Linked DNA regions of Homo sapiens. The protein of the gene in region 4 interacts with the protein of the main gene of each other region in a biochemical or structural test. Each region holds a gene or a part of one and is shown on either strand. Other genes may lie near its edges. The genes, in order: TNKS2, PDGFRB, CHFR and GRB14.

The links.
Region 1: the proteins of GRB14 (region 4) and TNKS2 form a complex in vitro, tested with the Homo sapiens proteins (one study listed by BioGRID).
Region 2: the proteins of GRB14 (region 4) and PDGFRB form a complex in vitro, tested with the Homo sapiens proteins (one study listed by BioGRID).
Region 3: the proteins of GRB14 (region 4) and CHFR form a complex in vitro, tested with the Homo sapiens proteins (one study listed by BioGRID).

The regions. Positions count from the first base shown.
Region 1 is NC_000010.11:91,793,408-91,801,582, forward strand, and holds the start of TNKS2 (poly [ADP-ribose] polymerase tankyrase-2), read left to right. Parts: upstream 1-5,018; 5' UTR 5,019-5,283; coding exon 5,284-5,482; coding exon of another isoform or gene 5,483-5,545; intron 5,546-8,175. UniProt on the Homo sapiens protein: Poly-ADP-ribosyltransferase involved in various processes such as Wnt signaling pathway, telomere length and vesicle trafficking.
Region 2 is NC_000005.10:150,145,727-150,152,966, reverse strand, and holds part of PDGFRB (platelet-derived growth factor receptor beta isoform 1 precursor), read left to right. Parts: exon of another isoform or gene 1-628; intron 629-7,240. UniProt on the Homo sapiens protein: Tyrosine-protein kinase that acts as a cell-surface receptor for homodimeric PDGFB and PDGFD and for heterodimers formed by PDGFA and PDGFB, and plays an essential role in the regulation of embryonic development, cell proliferation, survival, differentiation, chemotaxis and migration.
Region 3 is NC_000012.12:132,877,472-132,884,711, forward strand, and holds part of CHFR (E3 ubiquitin-protein ligase CHFR), read right to left. Parts: intron 184-7,240; coding exon 84-183; intron 1-83. UniProt on the Homo sapiens protein: E3 ubiquitin-protein ligase that functions in the antephase checkpoint by actively delaying passage into mitosis in response to microtubule poisons.
Region 4 is NC_000002.12:164,611,365-164,618,604, reverse strand, and holds part of GRB14 (growth factor receptor-bound protein 14), read left to right. Parts: intron 1-7,240. UniProt on the Homo sapiens protein: Adapter protein which modulates coupling of cell surface receptor kinases with specific signaling pathways. Binds to, and suppresses signals from, the activated insulin receptor (INSR). Potent inhibitor of insulin-stimulated MAPK3 phosphorylation.

The DNA.
Region 1 (8,175 bases), on a different chromosome or scaffold from region 4:
GGGCATGATGGTGCATGCCTGTGGTCCCAGCTACTCAGGAGGCTGAGGTGGAAGGATTGCTTCGGCCCAGGAGATTGAGGCTGCAGTGAGCCCTGATCACACCACTGCGCTACAGCCTGGATGACACAGTTAGACCCTGTTTCAAAAAAAACAAAACAAAACTCAGTAAAGTTACAGGATACAAAATCAACATACAAAAATCAGAAGCATTTATATATGCCAGCAGTGAACAATCTGAAAAAGAATTCAAGAAAGTAATCCCATTAACCCATTTATAATAGCTACAAATAAAATTAAATACCTAGGAATTAACCAAAGAAGTGAAAGATCTCTACAATGAAAACTAAAAAACATTGATGAAAAAAACAATTTTCAAATTTATACAGATCCACAAAATACCCATAATAGCCAAAGCTATCCTGAGCAAAAAGAATAAGACTGGAGAAATCACATTACCTGACTTATCAAAACAGCATGGTAGTGGTATAAAAACAGACAGACCTATGGAACAGAATAAAGAACCCAGAAATAAATCCATACATCTATAGTGAACTCATTTTTGACTAAGGTGCCAAGAACACATATTGAGGAAAGGACACCATCTTCAATAAATGTGCTAGGAAAACTGAATATCCATATGCAGAAGAGTGAAACTAGACCCCTATCTCTCACCATATACAAAAGTCAAGTCAAAATGGATTAAAGATTTAAATCTAACACCTGAAACTATCAAACTACTAAAAGAAAACACTGGAGAAACTCTCCAGGTCATTGGACTGGGCAAAGATTTCTTGAGTAATACCCCAGAAGCACAAACAGCCCAAGCAAAAAATGGACAAATGGGATCACATCAAGTTAAAAAGCTTCTGCACAACAAAGGAAACAATCAACAATGTGTAAAGACAATCCACAGAATGGGAGAAAATATTTACAAACTATTCATCTGACAAAAGATTAATAACCAGAATATATAAAGAGCTCAAACAACTCAAAAGGAAAAAAAAAAAGTCTAATAATCTGATTTAAAAATGGGTGAAAGATCTGAATAGACATTTCTCAAAAGAAGACATACAAATGGCAAATAGAAGAGGGCGCGGTGGGTCATGCCTGTAATCCCAGCACTTTGGGAGGCTGAGGTGGGCACAACACTTGAGGTCACGAGTTCAAGACCAGACTGGCCAACATGGTGAAACCCCATCTCTACTAAAAATACAAAAATTAGCCAGTCATGCTGGCAGGTGCCTGTAATCCCAGCTTCTCGGGAGGCTGAGACACGAGAATCGCTTGAACCCGGGAGGCAGAGGTTGCAGGGAGCCGGGATCGTGCCATTGCACTCCATCCTGGGCGACAGAGTGAGACTCTATCTCAAAAAAACAAAAAACAACAACAACAAAAAACCCAAATGGCAAATAGACATGTGAAAAGGTTCTTGACATCATTGATCATCAGAGAAATGTAAAAAACATTTTCTTTGCTCATCCAAAACTACAGTGAGATATCATCTCATCTCAGCTAAACTGGCTTTTATCCAAAAGACAGGCAATAACAAATGCCAACAAGGATATGGAGAAAAGGGAACCCTTGTACACTTTTAGTGGGAATGTAAATTAGTACAACCCCTATGAAGAACAGTTTGAAGGTTCCTCAAAGAACTAAAAATAGAGTTGTCATATGATCCAGCAATCCCACTGCTAGGTATATACCCTAATGAAAGCAAATCAGTATATTGAGGAGATATCTGCACTCCCATGCTTATTGCAGCACTGTCCACAATAGCCAAAATTTGGAAACAACCTAAGTGTACATCAGCAGATGAATGGATAAAGAAAACATGGTGCATATACACAATGGAGTACTATTCAGCCATAAAAATGTATGAGAGCTTATCATTTGCAATAACATAGATGGAAATGGAGATCATTATGTTAAGTGAAATAAACCAGGCAGAAAAAGACAAACTTTTCATATTCTCACTTATGTGGGAGCTAAAAATTAAAACAATTGAACACATGGAGATAGTAGAATGATGGTTACCAGAGGCTGAGAAGTGAAGTGGGTGGGGGATGTTTAATGGGTACAAAAAATAATTAGAAAGAATGAATAAAACCTATTATTTGATAACACAACACAGTGACTATAGTCAATAATAATCTAATTGTACATTTAAAAATAACTAAAATAGTATAATTGATTGTAATGCAAAAGATAAATGTTTGAAATGACTGATACCCCATTTACCCTGATATGATTATTAGGCATTGAGTGATAGTATCAAAATATCTCATATACCCAATAAATATATACACCTGTGATGTACCCAAAAAATTAAAAATTCAAACAATTTTAAAAATTAAAAATAGATATTTTGTTGCTAAAAAATGCTAACAGTCATCTGAACCTTCAGCAACTTGTCATCTTTTTGCAGTTGGAGGGTCTTGCCGCAATGATATCGAGGGCTGCTAACTGATAATGGTTGCTGAAGGTTGGGGTGGCTGTAGCAATTTCTTAAGAGAAGCTAAAATGAAATTTGCCACATCGATTGACTGTTCCTTTCACAAAAGATTTCTCTGTAGCATACAATGCTGTTTGATAGCATTTTACCCACAGAGCTTTCAAAATTAGAGTCTATTTGGGTGTTGAAACTTAATGGCAAAACAAACAAAAAAATAGAGCCTATCTCTCAAGCTCTGCTCCTGCTTTATCACCTATGTTTAAGTAACATTCTAAATTCTTTGTTGTCATTTCAAAAATTTTTACAGCATCTTCACCAGGAGTAGGTTCCATCTGAAAAAAATTTTTTTTTGCTCCATAAGAAGTAACTCCTCATCCATTCAAGCTGGTTTTTCTGTTTGTTTTCAGAGACAGGGTCTCTGTCACCCAAGCTGTAGAGGAGTGCAGTGACATGATCACAGCTCACCATAGCCTCAAATTCCTAGATCCCTCACATGTGCAGTTCACAATAGGGTTTGCGCTCCTGTGAAAATCTAATGCTGCTGCTGATCTGACAGGAGGTGGAGCTCAGGCGGTAATGCTCACTCCCCGCCCATCCCCACCCTGCCTCCATCCCCCGCCCTGCACCTTCTCTGCTCACCTCACGCTGTGCGTCCTTGTTCCTTACAGGCTAGGGACCAGTACCGGTCCAAGGGCCGGGGGTTGGGGACCCCTGTTCTAGTTAACTTGCTGCAGCTCCTACATCAGTATTTGCTGCTTCACCTTACACTTCTATATTATGAAGACAGCTTCTTTCCTTAAACTTCATGAACCAACCTCTGCTAGCTTTTAACTTGTCTTCTGCAACTTCCTCAGGTCTCTCAGCCTTCACAAAATTGAAGGCAGTTAGGGCTTTGCTCTGGATTCAGCTTTGGCTTAAGGAAATCTTGTGGCTGGTTTGACCTTCTATCCAGACCACTCAAACGTTCTTCGTATCAGCAGTAAGTCTGTTTCACTTTCTTATCATTCATGTGTTCACTGGAGTAGCACTTTTAATTTCCTTCAAAAACTTCTCATTTGCATTCACAACTTGGCTGTTTGGTGCAAGGGGGCCTATCTCAGCTTTCAACATGCCTTCTGCACTAAGATGAATCATTTCTAGCTTTTGATTTAAAGTGAGAGATACGCAACTTTTCCTTTCACTTGAACACCTAGAAAACCATTGCAGAGTTCTTAATTGGCCTAATTTCAATATTATTGTGTTTAAGGGAACAGATAGGCCCCAGGAGAGGGAGAGAGATGGCAGAGTAGCCTGTCAGTGGGGCAGTCAGAACATACACATTTATTGATTGATTGCTGTCTTCTATGGGTGTGGTTTGTGGTGCCTCAAAACAATTACAACAGTGATTTCAACTTATCACTGATCATAGATCACCATAGCAGATTTATGGGAAGAAAAATGATAAACGCAATCATATTGGTAGTGTTCTAGTCCTAGGTTCGTTCATGCATGTTCATGTTATTGATAAGCACCATAACTTCAATTTCATATGTATAAAAATGCTCAAAAAAGTGTACATCCTCTTTTAGCACTGTAGTGAGTCAACATTCCCCAACAAAAACTGGATTTCCTGAAAAACAGGTTAAGGTAGGAGGTTGGGGGGGGGATGCTTTTCAGAATGGCAAAGGTCAACATGTATCATCTTCTGTAAGTAAAATGTATGTATAGGCATACCTTTCTTTCAGTTTAAGACAAGGGGGTGTAGTGGGGAATTATCGTGTAAAACTACACCAGTATCTTAAGCATGAAAATCAATTATATGCTTTTCTTTTGTTTGTTGGTCAAAGAAAAAGATTATAACTCAGAAAACTTTCTTGGAGATGCGTATGCTCAGTGTATCCAAACTTTAGGCATGTCAGGTACAATATTGATTTACAAAAAGTTCCTCTAATCAATCCTGAGCTAATAACTTACTGTGGAAAGAGTAATTGATCAGAGCCATCCCTCCAATTGGAGTCAACTTCCATGACTGTTCGGATTTCCTTTATTTTGGGGGCAGTTCATCCAAACTTCTATTAAACGGCAACTAGTTCACTTTTGAGAAGTGGTTTACAAGAAACAACAACAACAACAACAAAGCAGTTGCGGAGGAAAGAAAAGAGACAAAGTAAAAAAAACGGAAAAGAAATCTCCCAGGAGAAAGGGATGTGGAAGCTGAAAACACGGACAATTTCCACAGTAAGACTTCCAAAAGAATGTGCAAGATCCGAGCAAAACTTTCAAGGGCTCTTTTTCAGTGTAATGGTAGTGAGAAAGTTCAGCCTGGAAAGCCCAGGGCTTAAAACAACAACAACAAAAAACACAATATGCAGGATCGTTCGGCTTCAGCAGAACCCACCGCAAAGATGGCGGTGGGACGAAGCCCCTTCTCCCGCCGCCGAAGCCTCTCGCCTCACATTTCCCACAAACCCTTCGCGCCGCCTCGCTAGCCGAAACCTGCCCAGCCGGTGCCCGGCCACTGCGCACGCGCGGGACGACGTCACGTGCGCTCCCGGGGCTGGACGGAGCTGGCAGGAGGGGCCTTGCCAGCTTCCGCCGCCGCGTCGTTTCAGGACCCGGACGGCGGATTCGCGCTGCCTCCGCCGCCGCGGGGCAGCCGGGGGGCAGGGAGCCCAGCGAGGGGCGCGCGTGGGCGCGGCCATGGGACTGCGCCGGATCCGGTGACAGCAGGGAGCCAAGCGGCCCGGGCCCTGAGCGCGTCTTCTCCGGGGGGCCTCGCCCTCCTGCTCGCGGGGCCGGGGCTCCTGCTCCGGTTGCTGGCGCTGTTGCTGGCTGTGGCGGCGGCCAGGATCATGTCGGGTCGCCGCTGCGCCGGCGGGGGAGCGGCCTGCGCGAGCGCCGCGGCCGAGGCCGTGGAGCCGGCCGCCCGAGAGCTGTTCGAGGCGTGCCGCAACGGGGACGTGGAACGAGTCAAGAGGCTGGTGACGCCTGAGAAGGTGAACAGCCGCGACACGGCGGGCAGGAAATCCACCCCGCTGCACTTCGCCGCAGGTAACCGGGGCCAGCGTCCCCTCGCCTCGCTCCAGACCCCACCTGCGCAGCCGGGGCCCACAGGTCTGAAACCAGTGCTCCTCCGCCTCCCGACCTTTCTCCAGGACTCTGGTCCTGGTGATCTCGCTCTCTTCCAGTGGGGACTAAGGAGATTAGGGGTAGGGTGAGCGTGCCACACTCGCTGGAAGTTTTTTGTTTTGTCTTGGTTTGGTTTTTTTGCCAGGTGTTGGGGGTGGTTTGGGGTTTTGGCTTTGTTTTGTTTTACAGTATCAACAATACCTGTACCAACTTCCGGTCTTGTTACCCTAGAAGGCCTCTACACACAAGAAAGAGTAGGGGACGTAGTTGATAGACCTTATGATTTAAAAGGTCAGTTACCTCCAAAATTTTTCGTTCTTGCAAGTTCCATTTGGGTTAAGGTCTTGAAGGACTTTGTAAAATACAAGGATGTAATTTAGGAGGAGTAGCTTAATAGGACGTTGACACATTAGCGTTAATTGGTTTATCAGAATAGCCAATCATTACCAAGTTTCTGGAGTGACTAGAACGGGAAATAGGCAAGTTTGGGAGAACTGAAACCTGACTTAGGCTGGGTGCGGGAAGCCTTAGACACACACACATACAAGTTGGGCGGAAAGTGGTAGTATAAGAGAAAAGATAGTGCAAGTACTTTAGCTTGAATCTAGAATTTAAGTTGGGACTAACCTTGCTTCATTCTGAAATTTAGATCGTTTGAATTACATTATTTTAATATTTATTAGGTTCACTTTATGATTTAAGCATATTAAATTTAGTCGAAAAATTTAAAAGAGCCATAGATGGGATATTCAGCTTATTCCCATAAAGCATGCATGCTGTTCACTTGTAGGAAAGATGATGACTGTTTCTAACTTCAGGTGAGTCATGCGTGATTGAAAATGGGAGTACCTCCTCTTACCTCTGACAATCCTGGTTTTTTGTTTTGTGTATTTCATGATTGTTTAAAACAATTTTTTGAAAAATCGGGGAATACCTTTTAAAGTACTCCTGTTCTTTTGGGGCTAGATTGATGAAGAGAAAAGGAGCAGTGAGAAATATTTCCTCTTTCACAGATATTACTTTTACACTTTCTACCAATTGGAGATTTGTTCGCTTTAACCTGTTCCAGATTTTAAATGTAAATACTACCAGGAGGTATGCTTTTTTGATCAATTGCACCTTTGTTGGATTTCCATTGGGGAGTCTTTTAAAAAGAAGAAAGTTTAGGGAACCTAGGTGGGAGAACTAGAAACGGTTTGTGGGCAATGGAAAGAGAAGGAAGAATACTTAAGTCAAACACACCTAGTTAGCCTTTTTGCCCGAAATTTCGGTGGTAAGTGCTGCCGTTCTTCAGCTAATTTAGGTTGTCCTGTTTGACCATGTAGTCAACATTTAAACAACTCATTTGGCAAACTGTCACGATCAACTGATACATAAGCCAAAGGGTAGGGTTACTTAGATTCTGTTCACTTGATCTGTGGGATAAAAATAACCAAGAAAGATCTTAGTTGCTACCTTTCAAGAATTTGGTGTATTAGTGAGTTCATATCTGAAAATAGTAATATTTAGAGGTGTAAGATTATGTTATTAGATCCTCAGTGACCTTGTTCCTTCTCTGCCTTCCCACCTTCAGTTCTGTCCCAACGTTTCAAAGCATATTTTTTACATAGGTTTCATTTTGTTCAAGTTTGGAAGACTTAATATTTTGGAAACCAACCCACCCCTCACAACTTACCCAAATTATCAGGTATAGGTTATCAGATTAAGAGTTAAAGGTATAAAAAGGGAGTAATAAAAATTATGAAGTGGGGGTTCTTCATTCAACCAGAGCTTTTGAAGTCCTGCACTTCAATCATATAAGAAACTTTTTTAAAAATTGGGTTTGTAAATTTAATCTGAATTTTAGGTTCATCAGAGAGAAGCTTTTTAAGTGCATCCAGCTACCTTTTCACTTAATATATGGAGAATATACTTTATAATCTGTTGTAGGTAGTGAGTTATCAGTCATGTTAATGTGCCTGCAAGCATACTGTTGGAAGTTCAACACAGGTGGTGGTATTATGTAACTGCCTGATCAAGCAGTTTCTTGTGTTTGTACTTCAGTCATAGAGTGAGCTATTGGAGGTGATGGGGGACATCATTATTTTAAAATTTTTTTAGCTGATTAAAGTTTGGAGATTTTACTGGGGGAGGCATGTTTTTGTCTTTTTGTTTTGATTCCCAAGTAATATTAGGACTGAGAGATTCGTGCAGACCACAGAAAATGAAAATTAGTTTAGAAAACATTTGCTTTAATTTCATCCCCAAAAGTTAGTTCAATTAAAAGAATAATCCGTTGCTAGCACCAAGAGAGTTAAATTCTGTTAATGAAGAAGATAGTCAACATAAACAGGAATTTTCCTTCTACTAGGTGTTTTTTTATTACTGAACTAGATTGCATACTTTTCTTCTAGATAAATATTATTTAAGAAGTAATTCCTTAGGAGAAAAATGACTCTGTAAATTGTTTCCTTTTCAGTCCGCCTGCCACTGCCCCCGACCATACGCAGATATACACAAGACAGGAATTTTTCTTTTTTTTTTTGAGATGGAGTCTAGTTCTGTCTCCCAGGCTGGAGTGCAGCGTCACGATCTCAGCTCACTGCAACCCCCACCTTCCGGGTTCGACCGATTCT
Region 2 (7,240 bases), on a different chromosome or scaffold from region 4:
TGTGACCCCGGGGCAGCACCTTGCCTCTCTGGGCCTCAATCTCCTTCTCTGTGAGCAGCAGGACCGTGTGTGGGCTCCATGAGACAACAGCATTGGCAAGGTGCTTACCACAGTTCCTGCACTTCACAGCTGGACCTCTGGCCACTGGCTGAGAGAACCACTGCTCTCCTGGCCTCCTGCATTGGAACACTTGGCTGTGAAATTAATCTGCAACCTGCAAAAGGCTCTGCCCACAGAAGGGACCTGGACACCATGTATGTTCCAAAGATCCGTGTCCATCCTCCAGGCACAGGCCACAGTCTGACTCTGAGACCAGCTGCCTTCTAGGCTAAAGGAGGGTGCTCTGGGCATTGGCTCAGAACAGGCTGCTGCTGAATGCAGTGGGAAGGGAGAAAGGGATGAAAAGGTCTTCTGAAATGCCCACCCATTTCTTGCATTTGATTCAGAACCCAGTGGGCAGTGGGTTCTTGGAATGGGAATCTTTTTGGTGCCCCCTGTCTTCTGACCCAGAGCGTTAGGAGGGAAGGGAAGGGGTGTTGGGCCCCTTCCCAGGGTCAGGGCTTGTAGCACCTCAGCTGGGAAGCAGTGTGAGCATGATGATATAACAGGAACCAACTCGTTCTTAGCACTTTCTGTGTCTACTTCAATTGTGCTTTACATCTGTTACCTCAAAGTTGCTGCTGTATTCCTCAGCACTTGGAACATGCTGGGCATTCAGGACATTCTTAGTAAATATTTACTGGATTAATTTAACCATCGAGGCTGGGCACGGTGGCTCACACATGTAATCCCAGCACTTTGGGAGGCCGAGGCGGGTGGATCACCCGAGGTCTGGAGTTTGAGACCAGCCTGGCCAACATGGTGAAACCCTGTCTCTACTAAAAATACAAAAATTAGCCAGACGTGGTGGTGCGCACCTGTATCCCAGCTACTCAGGAGGCTGAGGCACTAGAATTGCTTGAATCCAGGAGGCGGAGATTGCAGTGAGCCTAAGCGACAGGGCAAGACTGTCTCAAAAAAAATAAATAAATAAATAAATAAACCGTCACAGCAACCTCAAAATTAGATATATAAACTCTCCCCACTTTTTTTTTTTTTTTTTTTTGAGATGGAGTCTCACTCTGTTGCCCAGGCTGGAGTGCAATGGTATGATCTTGGCTCACCGCAACCTCCGCTTCCCAAGCTCAAGTGATTCTCCTGCCTCAGCCTCCCAAGTAGCTGGGATTACAGGCGTGTGCGCCACCATGCCCAGCTAATTTTTATATTTTTAGTACAGATGGGGTTTCACCGTGTTGGCCAGGCTGGTCTCGAACTACCTGACCTCAAGTGATCCGCCTGCCTCAGACTCCCAAAGTGCTGGGATTACAGGCGTGAGCCACCGCACCCAGCTAAACTCTCCCCATTTTACAGGTGAGAAAGTGCGCAGAGTCAGTTGCCTAAAGTCCCACAGCTCGGAAGTGGCGGAGCTGGGATTTGCACCTGGGTGTTTCTGACTCCAGATCCCCTTGATGAGAGGCTGGATGGGGCCTGGGATGCCCCTGGGGATCCAGTGTAAACCCTGAGAATGTGCCTCAGCTGTGGGGGCCCTCAGCATTCCAGAGGTAGTCATCAGACCCTAGAACCCTATGGGACTGTGCACAGATCGTTCCCTTCTGGGGCCTCAGTTTTCCCATCAGTCAAACGAGGAGGTTGACCCAGATGATGGTAAATCTTTCTTCCAGCCCTAAAACAATTTCAGGATTCCAAGCCATGCCAGCCCAGATTGGCAGCTGCACAAGCCTTGCTGTGTACTCAGGGATCATGCATATTTAATTTCACAATGAAAGGGTTTTTTTCTTACCCTTTTTCTACACATTACAGAAAGAGGTCAGGATCGATGACCACTAATGGAAAACTTTAACCTGCAATAACAATGAGGAACTTTCTGACAATTAGTGTGGCCCCTTAACGTGCTCAGTTTCTTGAGGAGCTCAGAGGGCTCCTACAGTTCCCACATGCCCATTTTCCTGAGATACTGAGCAGGGAGGGTCGGGGAGGAAGGCCCACTAGGGGCTGTGTGTGGATGCTGTAACCCTTTAGGTCTCTTCCAGTGCTGCGTTTTCAAACCTCATATGCTCTAATTTCAAGAGGAAGCAAGGCTTTGGCCCAGATGAGTGATGGGATCCAGAGGTGAGGGGGGGAATGGACACAGGGACCTACCTCTGGTGGGAGTGGGTGTGAAATTCCCATGCTTGTTGCTTCCAGTGTGGAAGCCCACTTCACATCCCTCCTGAGCCCTCAGGCCCAGATCCTCAGGATAAAGTCTTCCTGAACCTCCAAGCCTTAGCCCCAGAGCCCACCCTGCCCCCGCCCCCTACATCCACCAGATGCTTCCTGGGGTAGCCCACCCCCAGCCTGGTGCAGGAGGCTGAAAATCAAAGTGTACTGCTTTAACCGCATTAAAATCCCCTCCTCTCCTCAATTCAGATCAGGGCTATTTGATGTCTCAGGTGCCTGAAACCTTTTATCTGCCAGAGGTACCAGCTTCTCCGCCCTGTGATGGAGAGGGCTGTCCCTTGGGAGGGTCAGGGGGTCTGAAAGTTCCTGAATGTCAGAGATGAAAAGGACTTTTGGGGGTCACCTGATCCAACTGCTTTATTGTATGGATGGGAACTAAGGTCCAGAGAGGGGAAGGGTTGCACCTAAGGTCCGTACAGATCATTGGTGATGACGCTGAGCCTGGGACCTGGGCTCGCCTTTGTTCCACCACAGGTGCTGGGTCTTTACCATCTCTCTGAAGGCCTGGAGAGACCCAGCTCCACCTCTGTGGTTCAGGGCTCAGCCTCCAGGTCTGTCTGGGCTATGGGCTGAAAAGGAGCAAAGCCGTCCCAACAAGAAATGGGAATCTTCCTGGGTGGTTTGCTGGACCCCCGAGCTTTTGGCCATACCACTTCTTCATTCTAATCATAGTTTCCTCTTATAATAAAGTGGGGAGAAGCCAAGGGAGAAGTTTAGTGGCCCCCAGAGGTCCATCCAGCTCTGCCCTTAGCCCCTGAGAGTTCCTACCATGCTTCTTGTGACTGTTTTGCCACATCCTCATTGCTGCTGCTCTGTTACCTTCCCTTCTGAGAAGTGGAAACCCAAGGGCAGTGACACCACCAGCTTCTTCACTTCTGAGGCTGAGCCTCAGTGGTTATAGGGTGGGGCAGGGTTTCCAGTTAGCCTTAGAGGGGTAGGGCTCAGCTTTCTAAACATGTCACAGAAGCCCTGGCCCCTCCTGGCCCAGAGCATTGAAGGTAAAGGTGCAGGTTTGACCTGGTGGACTGTGGGTGGCTCCCATCTCACCTGTATTTGTGTCCTTATCAGTGTCCAACCCAGGGCCTATCTGCTGAATGGATAGTGAAATAATCACTAGATAAATAAATGCATGTAGAGATGCATAAATGGATTGGTGGGTGGGTGGATGGATGGATGGATGGATGGATAAATCGATGGAGACAGACAGATGGCCTCCCCTTTAGTCCAGGGCACAGAGATGGCTTCATGAGTACTCATCCTCCTGAGGGCCCCATGCTTAGAAGGGCCTATGTTTGGTTTAATGCTCTGCAGTCATCATTTTGAAATTGTTAATAATTTTTAACAAAGAGCCCTGCATTTCCATTTTGTGCTTGCCCCACAAATTATGTAGCTTGTCCTGCCAGGGAGTTCAGGCTGAGTTTGGGACGGCTTCATCCCCAACACTGGCCTTGCAGCCTCCACTGTCCCCATCCTAATCCACAGCCTCCCACTAAATGCCAGCCTGCTGGTGTCATCCTCCTGCATGGAGGCCCCCTCCCCACAGTGCCTGGAGTTACAGCATTGCCCTGCCAAGCCAGCAGCTACTACCCGCCATCACTATCAACACCTTGAAAAGTTGGTGGTCCAGAGAAAATCCTCACACAGCACCGCAGACCTTTCCTGAAGTCTCCCTGCCTCCTTCCCTGGCCTCCTGCTGCCTCCTTCCCAGGCCATCACCTACCTGTTTGCTGAAGAGCCCCAGTTTCTAGCCCAACAGATCTCTCCCTGCCATTTCTCCCAGATGCCTTTCATCTCTCACAGAGCCCTGGCCATACCTTTCCCTGGCATCATCTGCCAAAAAACTCAAGAAACCCTGGAGGCCTAGCTCAAGGCCACCTCCCTCAGGAAGCCATACCCGCTCTCCCCACTGGAGTAATCATATACTGTTGTTAGTCACCATTTACTGGGCACCTATGATGTGCCAAGTGCTGTGCGTCATCATCTCTGGCCCTCCCAGAAATGGAAAAGGAGGTCTCCCATGCCATTTCCCAGGAAATTGGGACTCAGATAAGTTAAACTCAGAGAACTGGGGCTTGGACCCAGGAATAAGTGGCTTCCAGCTGGAACCACTGCTCCCAGCCTGGCGGGGCTCCCATCCCTGCCCTGGATGGCATCAGGCGCAGCCTGTTGGCTTCAGAGTGCCATATGTCTGTTCTGCCCTCACCAGCTCATCTCCATCACCTCCCTGGAAGGAAAGAGTCACCATTGCCTATCCATGCCAGTTCCCTAGCCTAGTGAATCCTGTGTTATTAGGAGGCAGCCGAGGGCCCAGGACTGAAGAGCTGACCCTACAGAGCCATTTAATCTCTCATATCGTGTAAGCGTTTACTGAGCACCTACTGTAGGCCTAATTCCATATTAGGAAGTTGAAGAGAGTCCAGATCGTTGTTAGGTAGGTATCCTGATTTGTGGGAAGTCATATTAAAGGACTAAGACAAAAGTTCAGGAAAGAAGTAATTGACAGACAGTGGTGATTAGATGGGTCTGGCCTTAGGTTGGCCACCGAATCGCCGAGTGTGCTAGGATGAGACACTCCTCACTGAGCCTCAGGACACTGAAAAGGGCTGTTGCTACTGATTGTACCAATAATCAGCAGCTACCTCTTCCTGAGGAGCGTCTTTTGGGAGAGGCCTTCTTGCACCGTCTCATTTATCACATGCATCACTTTGCTGAGAAGCCTAGTCCCGTGGAGTCTTGGCTGTGCGCGCAAGGCCGAGTGAGTGAGTGACTTCTTCTCCCTTGAGTGAATGAATAATAATAATGTGGCCACCAACTTTGCAGAGGGCTGTGTGCCAGGCCCTATTCTAAGCATTTTGCTTGTGTTAACTCCTTCAATAGCCCTGACAACCCAGTGATGAGCCCCAATCTACAGATGAGAAAACTGAGGCACAGAGGGGTGGTTAAGTGAATGACCGAAGACAGGGGTGGGAGGACAGATGCTGAGACAGTGAGAGGGTCAGTGAAACATGGGGGTTCTCTGCCCTCCTGCTCTGCCGCCCAGGAGGGCTCTGAGGGGAATCTCAATGTTTGGTAATTGGCACTGATAAGTGAAGGGTTTACTCATTAGCTAGCTACCCCTCCCCTATTTGCAGGCCCTGGGCCTGTGGGGGAAGGCTGTGTGCTGGTGGGTCAGTGTGAATGGCCCAAGGCCTGCCTGTCCCCTGCCCACTTGGCTCTGAGAACCCATTCTATTTGCGGCCCCCACCCCAGCCCATGGCTGCTCCGGGCTGGCAGCAGCCCGGGGAACAGAAGGTTTGCTTGTCTGCGCCTGCCGCACCCCCCTCCTCAGTCTCAGCCTGGGACCCCTCTCAGGGGCTCCTTTGGCTGCCAAGGGCCTGGCACTCCCTGTTGCCATGGCACCGGCCGGAGATGAGGCTCTGGGGGGTGGGGATGGGGAGGGCAGCAGCAGGATGGTGGAGGCCTGGAACTCTGCAGCTACAGAGGCCCTGGCCCTCTGCAAACAGTGGAAGGGGGTGCTGGGGCCCCCACAGGGGCAGGCCTGGACCCTGTGCACAGCAGGCCTGTGGCAGAGCCGGCCACACACCTGGGCTGATTGCCTGGATGCTGTATCCCGCAGGAGCACTGCCCCTGCCAGACCCTGGCTTTCCTAAGCAAAAACTCTCTCCTCAGCCTTGTGTGCTCACCCTCAGCCTCTGCAGCGAAATTGTGGAGTTCTATCCCTAGTCCTGGGTTCTATCCCTAGCTCGACTTTAAAATTATTGGTGACCCGGGGCAGGCCTCCCGCATACACTGCCCCTCAGTCAGAGCAGAGGCGGGACCCAGATCCCTGAGGATCTTCTCATCCCTGAGATCCTGGATTCCGTATGGACGCCATTAGAGGGAGAACGTTTCTCTGTGGACAGATGGACAGAACTGTTTCTGGTCAGGAGACAGACAGTCTGGCATGACGGGCAAGAATTCAGGTTTTGGCAGTTGTGGTGATGCGCACCTGTAGTCCCAGCTACTCAGGAGGCTGAGGCGGGAGGATCACTTGAGCCCAGGAGTTTGAGGCTATAGTGAGCTGTGAGCTATGATCATGCCACCACACCACTGTACTCCAGCGTGGGCAACAGAGCGAGACCCTGTCTCTAAAAAAAAGAAAGAATATAGGCTTTGGAGTCAGGCCGGCCTGAGTTTGCATTCCCGTTCCTTTGCATCTTACTTATTGTGTGACCTTGGGAAAGTTACCAAAAGTCTCTGAGACTCATCATTCTCCTCTGTAAAATGGGAATAATGAGTGTACCCCCCTCACAGGGTGGTCGTGAGGATGAAACAAAATCTCCAGATCATCTCATTTAGCAGAGTGCCTGGCTCTAAATTAGTAGGGACTTTTGTTTGTTTCCAGATTGGGGGGGATCAGAACAATAACTAGAAAGATGTCCTGTATTTGGGGAGAGGGTGGTTGGTGGATAGAAGCAAGACCAATAAGCAGAGAATACAGTGAGATAAACTGTACTCAGTGTAATTAACAATTCTCAATAGTCTGCCCTCTGAAGATTCTAAGCTGGCTAAGAATGAAATGGGCCACAGGTGAGGTGGTGAGAGCCCTGTCATGGGAGGTGTGCAATTGCAGAGAAGGTGGGGGAGATGTGAATAGAGGGAATGTACTAAGACTGTAGGGCTCTGTGAAAAATGGAGTGACTGTTTCCCACTCAAACTGTCAGCTTCAGCTTTACCCAGCTCAAAAGACAGCGTGAAAGAGTGAAAGGAGAAGTTGGGACAAAGAAGGCGAAAAGATAAGGCTGACGACTTTATTTTTTAATTTATTTTTTTGAGACGGAGTTTCACTCTTGTTGCCCAGGCTGGAGTGCAGTGGCGCGATCTCGGGTTCAAGCAATTCTCCTGACTCAGCCTCCCGAGAAGCTGGGATTACAGGCTCCCTCCACCACGCCTGGCTAATTAACTTTTATTTTTTTTTATTTGA
Region 3 (7,240 bases), on a different chromosome or scaffold from region 4:
GCCGTGGCACACAGCACAGAGCACGAAGTCAGGCTTCTTAAGCTACAAGAAGAAACACCAAAAGAAGCTCAGAACATACTCACCTGGTATCTTCCAGTGTCACCTGACCTGATTTTTCATCCACTACAATTCTACAGTGATCTCCAGAGACCAGTTTATTGCTGGGGAAGGAAAGGTCGCAACCTAAAAAAGAGAGGGTGGGTCAACACGGGATATGATCGTGGTAACTGTGAACACTACTGCACTTTGTTTACCAAAGTATGTGGTTCCAACTCAGGATCCCCATTGTACATATGTAAAAAAAAACACTTGACCAAGAAAGACATAAAGAAATTTTTTTTTTTTTCTTGAGACGGAGTCTCGCTCTGTCGCCCAGGCTGGAGTGCAGTGGCACCATCTCGGCTCACTGCAAGCTCCGCCTCCCAGGTTCACACCATTCTCCTGCCTCAGCCTCCAGAGTAGCTGGGACTGCAGGCGCCCGCCATCACGCCTGGCTAATTTTTTGTGTTTTTAGTAGAGACGGGGTTTCACCATGTTAGCCAGGATGGTCTCGATCTTTTGACCTCATGATCTGCCCACCTTGGCCTCCCAAAGTGCTGAGATTACAGGCGTGAGCCACCGCGCCCGGCCCATCCTGAACCTTTCTGAATCCCCACCCTCTCAAAGACACCCATCAATACCTCCAGTTACACACAGCCTCTTAAATGGCAATTTTACAGCCAGGCGCAGTGGCTCATACTTGTAAACCCAGCACTTTGAGAAGCTGAGGTGAATGGATCACGAGGTCAGGAGTTCGAGACCAGCCTGGCCAACACAGTGAAACCCCATATCTACTAAAAATACAAAAATTAGCTGGGCATGGTGGCGGTTGCCTATAATCCCAGCTACTTGGGAGGCTGAGGCAGGAGAATCGCATGAACCCAGGAGGCAGAGGTTGCAGTGAGCTGAGATCGCGCCACTGCACTCCAGCCTTGGCGACAGAGCTAGACTCCAACTGGAAATAAAAAAAAAAAAAAGCAATTTTACAATATGCTTGCATACACAGCTAACCTGATGAGTATTATTAGAACTTTAAAAAAACTCAGGGGGTTGGCTAGGTCCGGTGGCTCACACCGAGGCGGGCAGATCACAAGGTCAGGAGATCGAGACCATCCTGGCTAACACAGTGAAACCCCATCTCTACTAAAAATACAAAAAATTAGCCGGGCGTGGTGGCGGGCGCCTTGTAATCCCAGCTACTCAGGAGGATGAGGCAGGAGAATGGCGAGAACCCGGGAGGAGGAGCTTGCAGTGAGCCGATATGGCGCCACTGCACTCCAGCCTGGGTGACAGAGCAAGACTCTGTCTCAAAAAAAAAAAAAGAAAAAAAAAAACTCAGGGGCTTAAGTAATTCTTCAGTATCTTAATTTAGTCCTTAATTTCTTTTCTGTGTAAACTTAGGTTTCATAAATCAACATAAAATTGAAGCAATGACAGTCACAGAAAAAGTGACTGAGCCAACTGTGATAGGCATTTGTTTTTTTTTTTGTTTTTGTTTGTTTTTTTTTTTTTGAGATGGAGTCTCGCACTGTCGCCCAGGCTGGAGTGCAGTGGCACCATCTCGGCTCACCACAACCTCCACCTCCCAGGTTCAAGCCATTCTCCTGCCTCAGCCTCCTGAGCAGCTGGGACTACAGGCATGCGCCACCATACCCAGCTAATTTTTTGTATTTTTAGTAGAGACGGGGTTTCACCATGCTGGTCTTGAACTCCTGACCTCTTGATCCACCCGCCTCAGCCTCCCAAAGTGTTGGGATTACAGGCTTGAGCCACCGCACCTGGCCTGCGATAGGCATTTGTACACGTATAAGAAACTGCATCTTATATACAGGGATGCATCTATAGCTGAATACAGTAATTCTGACACTTTGGGATTTTTTTTTTCTTTTTTTTTTTTTGAGACGGAGTCTCTTTCTGTGGCCCAGGCTGGAGTGCAGTGGCACGATCTCAGCTCACTGCAACCTCTGCCTCCCGGGTTCAAGCGATTCTCCTGCCTCAGCCTCCTGAGTAGCTGGGATTACAGGCGCACACCACCAGGGCCAGTTAATTTTTGTATTTTTAGTAGAGATGAGGTTTCACAATGTTGGCCAGGATGGTCTCGATCTCTTGACCTCGTGATATGCCCGCCTCGGCTTCTCAAAGTGCTGGGATTACAGGCGTGAGCCACCAGCGCCCGGCCCTGAATACAAAAGCAAGAGGGAAAATCCTCAATACTTGCCCTCTCCTTAAATCAAAAGAACAAAGGCGTTTTAATATCTCATCATTAATCATTACTGCCTATAATAATCTATAAGGATACATAAAGATACTAGAAGACAAAAAAGCGAAGGGTTTGGTCAGGAGACAGTGGCATGCAAACATACTTTTCCTAAACGTTCCACACAGAAAGACACCCTGAATCTGCTTTAGCCTGAGCCTTGCTCCCATCACTGACCTATGGGTGTGTGAATCAGAAGACTCAGTATTGTTAAAATGTCAGCTGTCCTCCAGATTGTTTCATACATTCAATGCAATTCCAGTCAAAATCCCAGAGGGCTTGTAGACACTGACAAGCTGATTCTAAAGTTCACAGAAAAAACGTGTAGAAAAACCAAAGCAATTTTGAAAAAGAATGAAGCTGGAAGACTCATATTACTTAACTGACTTACCATCATGCTATAGTAAACAATACAGTATTGTGGCTGTGTAAGGATGGCCAGACAGAGACAAATGTAAAATCTAAAACTATGAAACTTCCAGTGGAAAAGACAGGCAAAAATCTTAGTGCCGTTGGGTCTTGCATGGACTTCGCAGATAGGATATAAAAAGCACAAACCAGGAAAAAATAATAATAATAAGCTGAGGTTTGTCAAAAGTAAAATGTGGGCCAGGTGCCGTGGCTCACACCTGTAATCCCAGCACTTTGGGAGGCCAAGGGGGGGGCGGATCACAAGGTCAGGAGATCGAGACCATCCTGGCTAACATGGTGAAACCACGTCTCTACCAAAACTACAAAAAATTAGCTGGGCGTGATGGCGGGCGCCTGTAGTCCCAGCTACTCAGGAGGCTGAGGCAGAAGAATGGCGTGAACCCAGGAGGTGGAGCTTGCAGTGAGCCAAGATGGTGCCACTGCACTCCAGCCTGGGCAACAGAGCAAGACTCCGACTCAAAAAAAGAAAAAAAAAGTCAATTCTGGGCCAGGCGTGGTGGCTCACACCTGTAATCTCAGCACGTTGGGAGGCCGAGGCGGGCGGATCACAAGGTCAGGAGTTCAAGACCAGCCTGACCAACATGGTGAAACCCAGTCTCTACTAAAAATACAAAACTTAGCCAGGCATGGTGGCGGGCGCCTATAATCCCAGCTACACGGGAGGCTAAGGCAGGAGAATGGTGGGAACCCAGGAAGCGGAGGTTACAGTGAGCCGAGATCACGCCACTGCACTCCAGCCTGGGCGACAGAGCGAGACTCTGGCTCAACAACAACAAAAAAAGTAAGGCTGGGGGCGGTGGTTCACGCCTATAATCCCATCACTTTGGGTGGCCAAGGCGGGCGGATCACTTCAGACCAGGACTTCGAGACCAGCCTGGCCAACAGGATGAGACCCCATCTCGACTAAAAATACAAAAAATTAGCCGGGCATGGTAGCATGCACCTGTAATCCCAGCTACTTGAGAGGCTGAGGTGGGAGAACATGGGAGGTGGAGGTTGCAGTGAGCTGAGATCGTGCCACTGCACTCCAGCCTGGCAACAGAGCGAGACTCCATCTCAAAAAAAAAAAAAAGTAAAAATCTGTTCTTCAAAGATATTGTTTAAAAAGATGAAAAGACAAGCTATGGACTGGTGGAAATATTTGTAAAACACATATCTGACAAAGATCTTGTATCCAGAATGTATAGAGAACTCTGATAACTCAATAAATAGAAAGTAAATAATGCAACTTAAAACAATTTAAACACTTTATCAAAGAAGAGATATGGATGGCAAATTAAGCACATGACAAAATGCTCAACATCATTAATCTTCAGAGAAATGCAAATTAAAACCATGAAATACCACTACACACCAAATAAGAATTGGCTGAAAATACTGACCACGGGCCGGGCACGGTGGCTCACGCCTGTAATCCCAGCACTTTGGGAGGCCGAGGCGGGCGGATCACATGGTCAAGAGATTGAGACCATCCTGGCCAACATGGTGAAACCCCGTCTCTACTAAAGATACAAAAAAATTAGCCGGGCATGGTGGCACGTGCCTGTAGTCCCAGCTACTCAGGAGGCTGAGGCAAGAGAATGGCTTGAACCCGGGAGGCGGAGGTTGCAGTGAGCTGAGATTGCGCCACTGCAAATCCAGCCTGGCGACAGGGCAAGACGCTGTCTCAAAAAAAAAAAAAAAAAAAAAGACTGACCACCTACAAGTGGCCAAAAGGGAAGTGGAAAACCTGGAACTCTCGTACTGTGCTGTGGGACTGCAAAATGGACAAGCACATGGGAAACAATGCGGCAGTTTCTCAGCAAGTTAAACAGACACTGGCCACGTGGCCCAGCAATTCCATTCATAGTTACTTAGCTAAGAGAAAAATGTATGTCCCTACAAAGACTGCACACTTATGTTTATATTAGCTTTATTTCTTACAAAAACAGGAAGCAGTATAAATGTCCATCCACTGGTTGTAAACTAACAAGCCATGGTGCATCCAAACCACAGAACACTACCCGGTAACAGAAAGGAGCAAACTGCTCATCCATGCAACAAGGTGCGTGCCAGGGAAAGAAGCCAGGCGCAGAAGATGATGGCAGACACCCTGTGACCCTGTGTCACGACACGCTGGAAGCAGCAGAAGGCAAAGAAACCAGATCAGTGGCTGCCAGGAGCCGGGACTCAGGGGGACCTTTCAGGGTGACGAACATGTTCTACATCTTGACTGCACTGGTGAGTACATTTCCCAAAACTCATGGAACTGAACCCCAAAAAAGGTGAATTTTACTACAAGTAAATGATACTGCCATGAAACCGGATATTAAAAATCTTATTTGTGCAAACATTCTGTACTATTGGAAGTACTGTATCCAAGGCAAGTATCACCTGTGGTCAAGCTCTTCCCATTCCATTGAGCGTTAACTGCCAGGACAGTCTCCTTCAAGCCCCAAAACCAGTGCAAGTCACGGTGTCGCCAGAGCCAGTTTGTAACAGAGGCGTCTCCATGCCAGAACATCAGGTTTTTTTTTTTTTCTTTGAGACAAGGCCTTGCGCTGTTACCCCAGCTGTGGTGCAGTGGAGCAATCACAGCTCACTGCAGCCTTGAACTCCCAGGCTCATGTGATCCTCCCACTTCAGCCTCCTGAGTAGCTGAGACTACCAATATGCACCACCACGCTCAGCTAATTTTTTAAGTTTTTGTAGATACAGGGTCTATGTTGCCCTAGCTGGTCTCAAACTCATAGGGTCAAGAGATCCTCCTGTTTTGGCCTCCCAAACTGCTGGGATTACAGGCATGAGCCACCGTGCCTGGCCTGAATATCAGCATTCTAATCTGGAACCGAGATGCTTTGTGCTAAAGTTCTATTCACAGCATTTGCTGCGCTTGACGCTTGGTGGGTTAAATCTTTCAAGCAGTTGATGTACATTTCTGCCACTCTCTTAGAATAAAGAGCTCTTGGCTGGGCGCGGTGGATCACACCTGTAATCCCAGCACATTGGGAGGCCGAGGCGGGAGGATCACCTGAGGTCAGGACTTAGAGACTAGCCTAGCCAACATGATGAAACCCTGTCTCTACAAAATACAAAAATTAGCCAAGCATGGTGGTGAGTGCCTGTAATCCCAGCTACTCTGGATGCTGAGGAAGGAGAATCACTTGAACCTGGGAGGCGGAGGTTGCAGTGAGCCGAGATCACATCATTGCACTCCAGCCTGAGAAATAGGAGTGAAACTCCGTCTCAAAAAAAAAAAAAAAAAGACTGGGCGCAGTGGCTCACGCCTCTAATCCCAGCACTTTGGGAGGCCGAGGCGGGTGGATCATGAGGTCAGGAGATCAAGACCATCCTGGCTAACATGGTGAAACCCTGTCTCTACTAAAAATACAAAAAAAATTAGCCGGGCATGGTGGCGGGTGCCTGTAGTCCCAGCTACTTGGGAGGTTGAGGCAGGAGAATGGTGTGAACCCAAGAGGCAGAGCTTGCAGTGAGCCGAGATCGTGCCACTGCACTCCAGACTGGATAAAGAGCTCTTTGGGAAAACAAGGTTGTTGCACCCCTTCCTACACGTTACCTAGGCTTTCCCTTTTCCCCCAAATAATGCCTTATAAATGGCAGGCACATCATTGCTTTAAAATAATCAAGTTCTGTCTGGGCGAGGTGGCTCATGGCTGTAATCCCAACGCTTTGGGAGGCCAAGGCAGGTGGATCATTTGATTTGAGGCCAGGAGTTCAAGACCAGCCTGACCAACATGGTAAAACCTCATCTCTACTAAAAATACCAAAAAACTAGCCAGGTGTGGTGGCACACGCCTGAAATCTCAGCTAGTCTGGAGGCTCAGGCAGGAGAATCACTTTAACCTGGAAGATGCAGGTTGTAGTGAGTGAAGATCGCACCACTGCACTCCAGCCTGGGTGACAGAGTAAGACTCCGTCTCAAAAAATAAATATATCAGGCCGGGCACAGTGGCTCACGCCTGTAATCCCAGCACTTTGGGAAGCCGAGGCGGGTGGATCACCTGAGGTCAGGAGTTCAAGACCAGCCTGACGAACATGGAGAAACCCCGTCTCTACTAAAAATACAAAAAGTAGCTGAGCGTGGTAGCACATACTTGTAATCCCAGCTACTCGGGAGGCTGAGGCAGGAGAATTGCTTGAACCCGGGAGGTTGGAGGTTGAGCCAAGAAGGCACCACTGCACTACAGCCTGGGCAATAAGAGCAAAACTCCGTCTCAAAAAAAAAAATACATATATATATATAAAATAAATAAATAAAATAATCAAGTTCTACAACTGTTAGGAACTGAATGTTTGTAACTGAGTGTCTGTACCCCCCTAAAATTCATATATTTAAGTCCTAATCCCCAATGTGACTGTATTTGGAAATGGGGCCTGTGAGCTGATAAATGTTAAATGAGGTCACTAGGTGGGAATCAGATGTCACAGGGCTGGTGCCCTCTTAAGAGGAGGCAGAGAGAGCAAGCAGAGTCCCCCTCTCTGCCATGTGAGGACACAGCAAGAAAGTGGCCA
Region 4 (7,240 bases):
TGAAGTCACTTGGTACACAGGTTTTTGGGTAAGGATTGGAGAAAATGGGAATAAATTTTTCTAGAAGCAGAACTATGTTCTGAATTGGCATCTTTGAAAGGGGGAATAAACCCTTAAGTGGGTGGGACTGTAACTTTGTTTGGGGAGACAAAGAGGAGACTCTCTTGAGACCTTTATTATCAGGATGAGGTTTAAAGTCAGATCCCAAGGAAAAAACAGCCCTAGTGAAACTTCCAAGCTCTTTGAGAGTTGACTTTTTGGTTTGGATAGAAAATGGAAGTAAGGATAATAGATTTGACTGTGTGCCATGGTAGTGGAAAAAAAAAAAAGAGGCCGGGTGCGGTGGCTCACGCCTGTAATCCCAGTAATCCCAGCACTTTGGGAGGCTGAGGCGGGCAGATCACGAAGTCTGAAGATTGAGACCATCCTGTCCAACATGGTAAAACCCCGTCTCCACTAAAAATACAAAAATTAGCTGGGTGTGGTGGCCTGCACCTGTAGTCCCAGCTACTCGGGAGGCGGAGGCAGGAGAATCGCTTGAACCCAGGAGGCGGAGGCTGCAGTGAGCTGAGATTGTGCCCCTGCACTCCACTCTGAACGACAGAGCGAGAATCTGTCCCCCGCTGACACTACCCCCCCCCCCCCAAAAAAAAGATTCTGGCTTGTCCTTGAGCCAGAGTAAGAAAAGGAAATGTCTGATGATGACATAATGGTCATCTGGAAGAATTTAATAGGTAGTTCCCAAATTACTAAGGGCCTGCTATGTTTCTCACAAATCCTAGGCAGTAAGGACCCTAGCTAAGCAACAATACCATGCAAGATATATTTAAAAGATGGGGCTTTGATTTGGGGTTGTGGTAGCGGGTGGAGCCTGAACCAGAAGGAAAGTAAAGGGAAGGATATCTGGGCTGACTCACTTTAATGCTATGAATGGACACTTGCAGAATGCCTGTGTCTGAGAGATTTGTTGATGATGCAGGGTTTGTTTTGAATAGAAAGTGAGAAGAGGTGTTGGTATGCTTATGTTAGTATAGGGGACAAAAGAGAAAGAATGGGTAAAGTGCCAGGGTTAAGGCAGGATGTGCCCTAAGTGTGGATAGTCATCAGACTAGAGTAAGACGTCTTAGAGATTGATGACATTTCCTCAGATCAGGTTTAAACTGGAAAATGGGCAAAAAAAAAATAGCAAACTGGAAATGGGGAAAAGGTGATATTGTTATTGACCCCAATAGGTTTCCTGCTCTGGCCTTGTATCCTGTGTCCACAATGACCTTCTCAAAGAACACTGTACCCACACACACACCTGTACTGTTCCCTGAGCAGAGAGTCCCCGCCTGATTTTTAAAGATCCATCCCAGAGGGCTGTCCCTACCTTTGAAGGGCCCTTCTTGCTGATCTCTTCCTTGGCCCAATGGTTGAGATCTCTATGAAGACAAGGGTACCCCAAAGTTGAGGAGGAGGGAGGCTGCTTTTTACTTTATTTTATGCTTCCTTTTTCCCCCACCTAGACTTTGCATTTAGAACTGATCCTTTTGCTTTAGTTTCTTTATACACACTCAGTTCTTTGAAATGAGGAAGGTTTTGAGAATAGATGACTCTATGTAAGTGAGTCCCCCAACTCAGTAGCTTTGCAACACATATTACCCTTTTACAAGATGCTGTTTTTGGCCCAGTTTATCTGTAACCTTCAGTTGAGATGATGTAAGTGACTATGCGATATGTTCTACTGAGTATTATTTATGGTTGAAATATTATAGGAGAAGATGTCTCTTTACTTTATATTCTCTCTCATTTGTCCTGTTTAACCATTCCAGTCATTTTAGTGATTCTTTTCTCTCCACAGAAAAAGTGAAGAAAATAATTGTACTTGTTATTTACAAATCAATGACCAGAAAATTTGAGAGAATCCAGACTAAAAATGTTAAATTTCATCTGGCCTTTCAAAATCACAGTCAAAAACCATCTTACAAGTCATAAATTTTGTTTACTATTTGAGATGCCTACATAATGCATGAGTGGTAAAGTGCATTGAAGCCACAAATGGGATATGTTTTATCACTTTTTGCAAATAAAATGTCCCAAAGTGTACAATACTGTAGGCTTTCAGTACCATTATTTTTAAATGAAAGCTAGAGTGAGAGAGAATCCATATTCTTTTTTTTTTTTTTTTTTTTTTTTTGAGACGGAGTCTCGCTCTGTCGCCCAGGCTGGAGTGCAGTGGCACAATCTCGGCTTACTGCAAGCTCTGCCTCCTGGGTTCATGCCATTCTCCTGCCTCAGCCTCCCGAGTAGCTGGGACTAGAGGTGCCTGCCACCACGCCCAGCTAATTTTTTTTGTATTTTTAGTAGAGACAGGGTTTTACCGTGTTAGCCAGGATGATCTCCATCTCCTGACCTCATGATCCACCCGCCTTGGCCTCCCAAAGTGCTGGGATTACAGGCATGAGCCCCTGTGCCCCGCGAGAATTCATATTCTTTATTCCCTTTCCCTCTTTTTATAATGATGGCCAGATTTCCTAGGCATCTTTCTTTGTGTTTACTAATAAAGCAAATTTAAAGTATACCTTCCCTTACATACATGGTCCAGAAAAGTTACTTATATTAAAAGTGACTTCCATTATGAACTTAATCTCTTTTTTCTAATTTATGATTTAAATTTATAAGGAAATCATCTGTTAGTAATGAACCCTAAACACCTATTGTTTGAAGGAAAGCAAAGAGTTAGAAATCTTTATTTAGCTCTTGCAGCAGAATCAGTTCTTGTCTTTTTTGTTGACCCCTAGGTAATTTTTGTGCTTGGACATAGCCTGTGTAGTAGCTCTGGTTAATTGCTTCCCAGGACTATGTTGTACAACTAAGTAAGAATAAAGCCTCTGAAGGCTTTAGAGATTTAAAAAATGCTATGAAAACCAGTGTCATGAAATGTTTGAGTTGGATGGGATTTTTCAGATCTTCTATTCCAATATTCTTCTTTAGTGATACGTAAATTGAGTTTAAGGAATGCTATGTGGCACAGCCAGCACCTGAAATCTGGATTTCTTGAGGCTTTGACAGTCCCTTTTTAGGAAGGTACAATTTCTAAAGAAAGCAAGGACTGTAAATAAGAGTAGTATAATAATACATGTGTACCAGTGTTGTTAGTTACAACTCTCCTCATAACACAAGAAGAACAGGGGAGACAAACGCCATTTGTTAATATTCATCTAAGGACCTGGAATTCCTCTTTTTATTTCTTCCCGAAATGTAACTACGTTTTTTCTTCTAGCTTTCTTCTCCATCTTCTCCCTAAAATTGGTCTGAGAAATCTATCAAATATTTGATTTTATTATCAAATAAGATTTATTAGTATTATTAATAACCAGCTTTTGTGTGTGGTTTACGGTCCACAGGATATTATTTCATGGGAACACAAGAAAATGAGTATGTCACCTGCATTTTAAGATTACAAAAAGAGTATGCAAAAACTGGAAGGGATTTGCCCATGCTTCCACAGTTTAAATAAAGGGAGATCAAAAAGAGTATCATGTCTCAATGTGTCCTGTCCCTTACCACACTGTTTCTAGTGTATTCTTTATTAAATTAAGCCTTTTTTTGTATGTCTCAGAAAAATAAAAATTTATCTCAAATAATTAAAAAATTAGTTTTCCATATGCTCGGCCTTTTATTTCTTTTTTCTCTACCATGTCACGGACTTTCAAAGGATAAGCAGATCTCTGTCCCCAAATTAAAGGGCCTCTTATATCATTCCTTTGTGATGCCAGTAATTACCCCACTTTGGACATGCTGAACTTGTATGTGTGGTCCTATAGGAATCTTGTGTGGCTGCTACATTAACTGAAATTTCATATACTTATTTTTCTAGTATACATAGAAGTAAAAGAAGAGAAACCCATGTACATATTGTAGTTTTTCCAGACTCAGCAATTATCAAGATTTTGCCTCATTTACTCCATCTATTTCTTTTTTAAAAATTTTATTTTCTTTGCTAAAGTATTTTGAAGTATATCCTGGACACCCCATCATTGCATCTCTACGTAGTTTTGTATTCATCTCTGAAAAATGAATTTTCTTTTATATCCCAAATGCCATTATTCCCTAACATAAATAACAGCAATTCCTTGATATCGTCTAAAACCATTCATAATTGAATTTTCTCAGTTGGAATGGCTCATGAAATTCTCAAATTACAAACTGCTTAGCTTTCAAATGTCTGAAAATTAGCTCTTTGGAAGTTTAAATTCATTTTTAGATGGAAACAACATCATAAATTGTATTTAGGCCCTCTGAGCTATTTTACAAAATCCCATTTAATTGGAAACAAAACATATATGCAGAAAGAATGATAGAAACAATACTCTCTCCTATTAGGGTTTCAAACAAATCTATCTTTCCAACGGCAATTTGCTACTTTTGAGTGCTGTCACTTGATGAATATAATTTTTTGGGAGAATTTGAAAGCGTGCAGATCTTTGTAGCAGTGTTGAAGCAGGCTTTACAGCTGCGCTTCTCAAAGTGTGGTCATTAAATCACCTTCTTCAGAATCAGCAGGGATGCTTATTAAAAATATGGATACTTGGACCTCTTGCAAAACCCACTGAATAGGAATGTTCTGGGGGAGGTTATAGGAATTTGATTTTTTATATTTTTTTCTCTTTGATATGTATACAAATCAGTGCTACTCTTAATCTCTACCATTTTCAAACTGGGGCAATTGGACCTTTCAAAACTGAGGACAGTTGTGTTTTGTTGACAAAGGTGAGTATGTTACAAATGGCCTTTAGTTGGTATTTTAGCCAGGTATTGATTGTTCAGACAAAACAGAGCCTCAAATGAACCAGCCTGAAAGGCTGTGTTGTAGTACCTGAAGGCCAAAAGGTCACTGGTCTCATGAGAGGCTGAAATTGGGAGCAAGAAAGTCAGCAAAAATCAAGTCAACCACTTTCTCTATTCTCTCTCTTTTGTTCTCCCACAAACATACCACATAGTCTCTGCCTCTCCTTGCAAATTCACATCATTTTTGAGATTTCTTTGCAGTGTTGCTTGCCCTGATTTCATGTCAGTGCCAGCGGCCTCAAGTGGCTGCTCCCAAGTTTTCCACCTATTAGTGGTTCAGTACTTGGTAACTGACTGGGAACTGTATCTGGAGAGGTATGTTAGTCCAGTGTGTCCAGATCCTATTCAATCAGATGTGGCCAAGGGGACAGTGGGCCCTGGACCACTGTTCAGTCTGCAAGGGTGTGGTAACATGTGAGAAAGAGGTACAGGTTTAGTAGGTATGGCATATGGAGGCACTATGTCCTAGGGGCAGCTAGTGTCCTAGGGGAAAAAAAAGATCTCAAACAGGACACAAAAACTAATTCTAATCATATTTGTATGATATATGATGATCCACCAATTGGTTTATTTGACTTAACGTACCCAGTTCAGAGTGTTCAGCTCCTTTGTCTCAATTCACTTAATGTACGTGAAGCATACTTATTGGGCAGTTGTTTCAGTTGATGTCACCCTTCAGGGATGCTCAGCTTCCTTGTCCATTTTCCTGAGCTTACGTCTTACTGAGGTCCCTTAACCCCTGATGACAGGAATTACCAACTCAGGTTCCTTCCCACCTTATGCTAGTTACCTTCATTGTAGGAGAAGTTAGCTTTCTTTTCCTATTTTAAAACTTAAATCCCCTAGCAGATCTTCTATTTGTCAAGGTTTTATTTCTAGTTTGAAGGTTGCCTTTAATTTTTGGTTAATTTGCAGGGTACATTTGCAGTCCAAGCTTTATCTACAATATGGGTTTTCTTTTTAACGTTATTGAAATCTCAGCTTCTGGTTTGTTTTTCCCTGGGGCATATAATATGTTCTGTCAAGAGAAAGAAAATTGGAGTCATCATGGTTCAATATAAGTGTGGATTTTAATTAATATAAAAAAGATTTCTGCAGTCTTATGGATATTGCTTTGAAAAAACGTCAGCTTATGTCAAATAGTAATAAACTCTATTGTATAAGTATATGCTTATGTGTATTTCAATGGTGGTAAGCAGACCTGAGAATTGTCCTTTTGACATTACAGATAAAGGTCAGCTCAAGGGAGACCCCAGAGAATGGCCACAAGTCTTTGCCAAGGCAAGGGAGTAGAAAGAAAGGGTTCAGGATTAATTTAGAAGAGAAATGGCAGGACTGACATAGGGAGACCATCCTTTAATTCTTGTCCTTTTCTTTGGCCCACTCATTTAACATTTTTTCAAAGCCACAGAAAAAATAAACACAAATAGGAGGTTTAATATTCTTAACCAGCTTACAAATGCTTGTATTCCAGAAGATCTTTAATAAATTGGCCATTTATTCACATACATTTTTCCATAGACGTATTGTTACATGCAGTGGTTAGGTGGTCAGGCCAAAGCCTTAAAATCCATAATGGCTCCAAAGTATAGTGCTCTTACAACATTGCGTGTACCGTTTTTAAAATTGCTTCTGTGGAAAGATGTGTCAATATGATGTGACTGAAAGATATTGGAACAGGAATCAGCAAACCTAGTTTTTAATACAGTCCTACTACAGATGAGGGGTGTTATATCAGCCCATTGCTCACCCTTTCTGTACCTGAGAGCTCTACAATTTTATTGTATTCCTAGAGCAAGTGATTCTGATGGCTCCAGAAGCAGTAATGGCTCCTGTGCAGCAGATACAGGAGTCGTGGAAAGCAGGGTTTCTTTTGTTCCACTAGCCCTAGAAGCTCCCTCTTAGCCTCTGTTCAGGTATTCCCATATAGTGACCACACTTTTTTGTGATAAAGAGTATGTTTGGGGTGTCATAGGACAAAGAGCACAGGAGTCACATTCATGGAAATAATTGGGGCAGAAGGGTCTGGTTAAACTAGAAACTGCAGCAAAGTCATAGTTCAAATATTAGAAGAAGAATCAGAAAAGGAATCACATCTAGTAGGAGCCAGCTCAAGTGGTGAAGTTAAAGTACAGGACCAAGCATCTAAACTTAGAAATAAGGATACGAGATAAGATGTGACCACTTGAGGCCGGCATAGGTCCAATACACATTTGGCTCTACTTGGTTTAATAGGTACGGGGTGGTCGTAACCTCTGAATTCTCTAAATTTATCTTTCTCCACCCTCAAATCATTTATTTGATTACTTAAGCCAAAATTTAAGGAGTCCACTTTCTGTTCTTGTTAAGTACTGCTTCATCTTTCATCAAAGTAGGCTTGAATCTATATACATCTCCCCATCTCTGC